Linked DNA regions of Homo sapiens: region 1 is linked to region 2. Evidence: fine-mapped expression QTL. A gene starts in region 2. The other region holds a variant in brackets. All regions are shown on one strand. Distances are between the middles of the regions.

What was found. PIP is the estimated chance that this variant, and not a neighbour inherited with it, causes the effect. A credible set is the group of variants that fine-mapping cannot tell apart.
Region 1: its variant is the best candidate, but not a certain one, in a credible set for the expression of MTCL2 in tibial nerve (GTEx, PIP 0.83).

Annotation. Positions count from the first base shown.
Region 1 is chr20:36,785,198-36,788,094 of GRCh38, forward strand. MTCL2 (microtubule crosslinking factor 2) reads right to left here. Exons shown (of 15, transcript NM_080627.4): 15 at 1-1,440. The coding sequence ends at 1,288. Among named protein-coding and RNA genes, the nearest start is that of DSN1, 13 kb to the left of the region's middle. The variant G/T (reference allele first, on the strand shown) is at 1,305.
Region 2 is chr20:36,862,030-36,864,926 of GRCh38, forward strand. It overlaps MTCL2 (microtubule crosslinking factor 2), which reads right to left and starts at 1,509. Exons shown (of 15, transcript NM_080627.4): 1 at 629-1,509. The coding sequence starts at 1,315. RefSeq lists silencers at 1,109-1,258, 1,329-2,218.

The sequences.
Region 1 (2,897 bases), 77 kb before region 2:
CCCTCCAAAGCTGACCAGGAGGCCAGGTCTCCAAACCTGGCTGCCAAGCGGCCTCGTCCACCCAGGGGACCCCATGCCTGCCCGTGCTGTTAGAGGCCTCATGTTGTCCCAGTGGCAAGAATGCATGTTTCAACCTCCAATAAATTACCTTAGGGACTTTGGGGTAAATTAAATTATTAAAATAAAGTAAACCACCTTAAATATTTATAGTAGGAAAAATTCAAATAAACAATCTAGGCAAGATACGTGTTTCCAGGCCCCAGTCTACTGCTGTGTCCTGGGCTCTGGCCTCTTGGTGTTCTCCTGGGCCTGACCTGGCCAACCAAGAATCTCTTACTGGGAATATCTTTGCCCCCCGACCAGCTGCAGGATGTAAACACAGTGGAGATGTAGTGCCTGCTGCCTCTCAGGGTGCCAGGGAAAGAGGCCTCTGAGATCACTTGAGATCAAGGCAGTGTATTTAGGCATTTATCTATGCACCAGGTCTTGAGACTGACTCTACCTATTTCTGTCCTCAAGGGGTCTGCTGGGAACGTTGGGGCCCCAAGTCACTTTGGCAAGGAAGGCAATTGCAATCACTCCCCAACCCTGAGCCCTGCATGTTTCCACTTCGCCTCCCAGCTCTTGCTGCATCCAGGCTATGGGCAGGGAGATCCAGGGCTCCAGGACACTAAGCAATGGCCCTGGCTACTGCCCTATCATACTCCCTAGTGTCCCAGCAATCTAGAGCAGTGGGGCTGGGAGGAGGAGGTGGTGGAGAGAAGGAGGTGATGGTGATGATGCCCAACAGGGCTCCACCAGGAACCAAACATGGAGCCCTAGAGCAAAGCCTGTTCTTCTCAGCAGTGTCTCCTCCCAAATGAAGGGGTGGATGGTCAGCAGGAAACATCTCTCCGACTCCTTTTCCCCAAAGGCATGGCCAGACATGTATCCTTCTTGGGCTCTTCCAAGAGGGTGGCATGGGCAGAACCAGGCAAGGCTCTCTCTTAGGACCCAGGGATCGGCTCTTGACAGATCTCTCAGTGGATGCTTGGGAAGCCCAGGTTTGGTCTCTCTCCCACTCACTGCCTTCCCCTGGGAAGTCGAAGCTCACCACCCAGGGGCCAGCAGGAGACCCGGCTTTACCTTGATGTGAAAGCTGCATTCTGGCAGTGGCATCACTGCTGTCCCTCCAGGGCCAGGCAATGCTGAGGACACAGCCCCTCGCCTCACCTCGTCTCGTCTCTGCTGGTTCCCTTCTGCTATCCAGGGGCTGGGCTGGTTGAGGCGGGGAGCTTGGCTGCTCTGTCACTCGCTGGGGGGGA[G/T]TGCCCTCTCCTCCCCACCCCAGCTGGACTCTGAAGGGTGCAGCCTGCACTTGGAAGGAGAGTGGCGGATGGCAGAGCGGGACGATCGGGCGAAGCAGGAGGTGAGAGACTGGGTACTACAGTCACAAACAGCGTCCTAGGAAGAGGGAGGCAGGGAGGCAGGAAGTCAAGAGGAGCCAGGAGACATGGACCACCATGAGCTGTGTGGTATGCCAGGCAAGGAACTGAGACTCGGCCATAAACCAGTTCCCAGGGGCTGAAGCTCCTCACTGGACCAATTTTTTCTTTCTGTTGTTCTTCTCCCATTAGAGCGGTAATGGAAGTTCATTGTAATATATTCTAGGCTATACAGAGAGGACAGTGGACACTGTCCATGGTCCTGCACGCCAAAGAGATTCTTAACATACATTTACCAAAATGACAGCTTATTTTGCAACTGTAAAACACGAACACTTTTCTGTCACTAGGTATGTCTAGATCTCCTTCCTTTTTATCCTTTTTTTTCGTTTGAGACAGGGTCTCACTATGTTGCTCAGGCTGGTCTTGAACTCCTGGGCTCAAGCGATCCTCCTGCCTCAGCCTCCCAAACTGCTGGAATTAGCACCTTTGGGTGCTCATGCCTCCCAAAGGCATGAGCCACCATGCCTGGCTGATCGCCTTCTTTTTTAGTGTCTCTGTACCATTTCACTAGATAGAAATAACTGATTTATATACCCAATTCGCTTTTTTTATTTTTTTATTTTTTAGACAGAATCTTGCTCTGTTCCCCAGGCTGGAGTGCAGTGGTACGATCTTGACTCACTACAACCTCCACCTCACGGATTCAAGTGATTCTTGTGCCTCAGCCTCCCAAGTAGCTAAGATTACAAGCGTGTGCCACCATGCCTAGCTAATTTTTGTATTTTTAGTAGAGAGGGGATTTTAGCATGTTGGTCAGGCTCAAACTCCTGACCTCTAGTGATCTGCCCGCCTCGGCCTTCCAAAGTGGTGGGATTGCAGGTGTGAGCCACTGTGCCTGGCCCCAATTCACTTTTTATGTACATCTGGGTAGTTTCTAATTTTTTACTATTACCAATAAACAGAAATAATGATCAAAAGTGCTGCTGCCAGGCACGGTGGCTCATGCCTGTAATCCTAGCACTTTGGGAGGCTGAGGCAGGTGGATCACGAGGTCAGGAGATCGAGACCATCCTGGCCAACATGGTGAAACCCCATCTCTACTAAAAATACAAAAATTAGCTGGGCATGGTGGCATGCGCCTGTAGTCCCAGCTACTCGGGAGGCTAGGGCAGGAGAATCGCTTAAACCCAGGGTGCGGAGGTTGCAGTGAGCTGAGATTGTGCCACTGCACTCCAGCCTGGGTGAAAGAGCAAGACTCCATCTGAAAAAAAAAAAAAAAAAAAAAGTGCTGCTGGACAGCTGGCCATGGTGGCTCACACCTGTAATGCCAGCACTTTGGGAGGCTATGGCAGGTGGATCACCTGAGGTCAGGAGTTCAAGACCAGGCTGGCCAACATGGTGAAACCCCATCTCTACTCAAAATACAAAAATTACCCGGGCATGGTGGCACATTCCTGCAGTCCCAGCTACTTG
Region 2 (2,897 bases):
TAGGAAGCTGCCTCTGAACCGGTTCTCCCACGACATCATCCTCCAGGCTGTGGGACCGTTAGGCTGGGCGGAAGTGGACTCCAGCCAAGGGGATGTTCCCAGATGTCATGCTTTCAAACTGGACCCGCCCAGAAAGGCAGGCAGAGACAGGCCTGCGCCCGGGAAAGCCCTGGGTAACGACTCAGGATGGCATTCAGGCCTTTCCTGGGCAGGGGATGGCCACAGGTTTCCCTGGCGGCGGTGTCTATCAATCCCGTCCCAAGAAGGAGAGCCTGGGCGTGGAGGTTCTGGGCAGCTGAAGGCAGAGATCCATCCCTTCCCTGGCTACCCACCCCCACCTCAGCAACGCCTCCCAGAACGCTCCAAAGCTTTCTCAAGTCCCCGCTCCCAGGTTAGGGCCCTGTAGCCAGTTCCAAGGTCTTTTTCAGGAGCGCGCTTCCCAAATAAAGTTGAGAGGGGGCGGGGGGAATGAGGGAGCCCCAGATCCACCTCAGAGTGGTCCCCAGAGGGCTTGGGCCCCTTTCTCCGGATTGTTCAGTGGGAAGGAGGGCCGGCTGGTGCCTCAGGCCCGCGGGACTGTGACAGCCGGCGACCCCTGCGACCTCCCTTTCTACCCGGGCGCCCCCACCTTGAGATAGTCGTTCTCCGAGCGCAGCTCCTCCAGCTCCCGCACCAAGCCGCTGGGCCCGCAGTCCAGCATCTCCTCGGTGAGGTCGGAGAAGGCAAGCGAGGCGCTGAGCGGCAAGCGGCTGCTGCCCACCGACGACGCGGCCACCGACGGCTCGTCCGGGGAGGCGGGCGGCCGCGGGGGCTGCTGCGCGGAGGGCGCGGGCTGGGCCGGCTGCCCCGTACGGACCCCCGCCGGGCCCCCGGCCGCGGACTCGGCGTCGCTGCTCAGCGCCAGCTCCAGGCCCAGCAGGCGCGCCTCCTCCGACGCGCAGTCCGACACCTCCGAGCTGCTATCCGTGAGGCTGGGGGGCGGCGGTGGCGGTCGCGGCCCCGCACCCGAGCGCGGACGGCCCTTGGCACGGACCCCGGTGCGGACCCCGGCCACCCGCACACCCGCACCGCGCGCCCCGGGAGCCACTGCGCGCCCCTTCTTGTCCGGCCGTGAGGAGAACGCGGCGCTGCAGGCGACTGCTGAGCCCGGGCCTGGGCCGCGGCGGCCCTTAGCCAGCGACCAGCCGGCCACGTCTTTGGGCCGGGCCGGCGACGGCGCGCGGTGGCTCTTTTTCCTCTCCGGGGCAGGCGCGGGTGCAGGCGCGGGCTGGGGACCGCAGCCCCGGACCGGGGGCTCGGCCGCCGGCGCCTCCATCGCGGCCTCCCTCGGCCTCAGCGAGCTGCGCGCATGGCCCAGGCCCGCCCGGCCTCGACGTCCCTGGGGAGGGACCCGGCGCGGCTCCGGCCGCTGGGGCTGCGGCTGCTCTCGGCCCACCTCGGCCCCGACACCGCGTCCCCGTCCCAAGCCCCGCCGCGCGGTCTCTCCGCTGCTCTGGGCTCGGAGAGTGCGGCCCGACCGCCTCCAGGCGCCCCGGCTCCGGCTGCGGCTCCGCCCGGCGCCCGCCCCCTCGGCCTCGCCGCGCCCCCGGAGCGCGCCCGGGCCCCCGCCGCCCGCACGCCGATCGCTCCCTCGGGCTCCGAGTCCGGCTGCGGCCCGGGCCCCGGCTCCGCCCGGCGCAGCCCGCCCCCCGCGCAGCCCCGCCAGCTCCCCGCCCCGCCGCCTCGGCTCGGGGGCGCGCGGTTCCGCGAACAAAAGGCGGACGCGGCGGGAGCGGCAGGGAGGGACGCAGGCAGGGAGCGAGGGAGGGATCTGCGAGGCAACAGCGACCCCTTCGAGGGTCAGGCTGGCGCGGGCAGCCGCGGCCCGGGCTCCCTCCTCCTCCGCTCCGCCGCCTCCTCCCCTGCCCGCTCGGGGAAGGCACCCGGCGGAGGCGCCCCTGCGCCCGGCGTCCGGGCAGGGCCTGCGAGAGCGGCGGGAGCCGGGACTCCCGGGCCGAGGCCGGGCGGACCTCAGTTCGCAGGAACCCGCATCCATGCACGCCCAGCGCCTCGCCCCTCGCCCCGTGCCGAGCGTGCGCGAACTCCGCCCCCTTAGCCGGCATCGCCGGAGCCGCGATCCCATCGCACAGATGCGTAAACTGAAGCCTGGGGTGCACGCGCCAAGCTCACGGTCTAGGCGGCGCCGATGGGACCCAAAGCTCACACCTCCCGGGCGCGCTCGGGCTCCCCCTGCCTCGGCTTCCCTCTCCTGGCATAGGGACCGTGAAGCCCTGTGTGCATGCCTGGCTCGCGCACCTTGACCGGCGGATATTTCTCCCCATGCGCCCCCGACCCGGGTTTCAGGCTCTGTACGGCTAAAATGGAAGCGACCCGTAGCTAGGCGCGGTGGCTCATGCCTGTAATCCCAGCACTTTGGGAGGCCGAGGCGGGTGGATCACGAGGTCAGGAGTTCGAGACCAGCCTGACCAACATGATGAAACCCCGTCTCTACTAAAAATACACAAATTAGCCGGGCGTGGTAGCGCGTGCCTGTAATCCCAGCTACTCGGGAGGCTGAGGCAGGAGAATCGCTTGAACCCGGGAGGCGGAGGTTGCAGTGAGCCGAGGTCGCGCCACTGCACTCCAGTCTGGGTGGCAGAGCTAGACTCCATCTCAAAAAAATAAACAAATAAATAAAAACAAAAATAAAATGGAGGGGACCTATTACGAGATGTCAGCCTAGCGGATGCTTTGGAAGGCGGTTTTGGCCCCCGTGGGGGCTGGCATGGGCTGGGACGGTTGCCCTGACCCCACACGTCCCCACCAGGAGCAGTGCAGGAGGACTTGAGCTCTGATGGGCGTGTTTTCTTTCCTCCCGGGCGTCTGGGCGTCTCCTTGGCTCCTGGCCGTGTTGATTT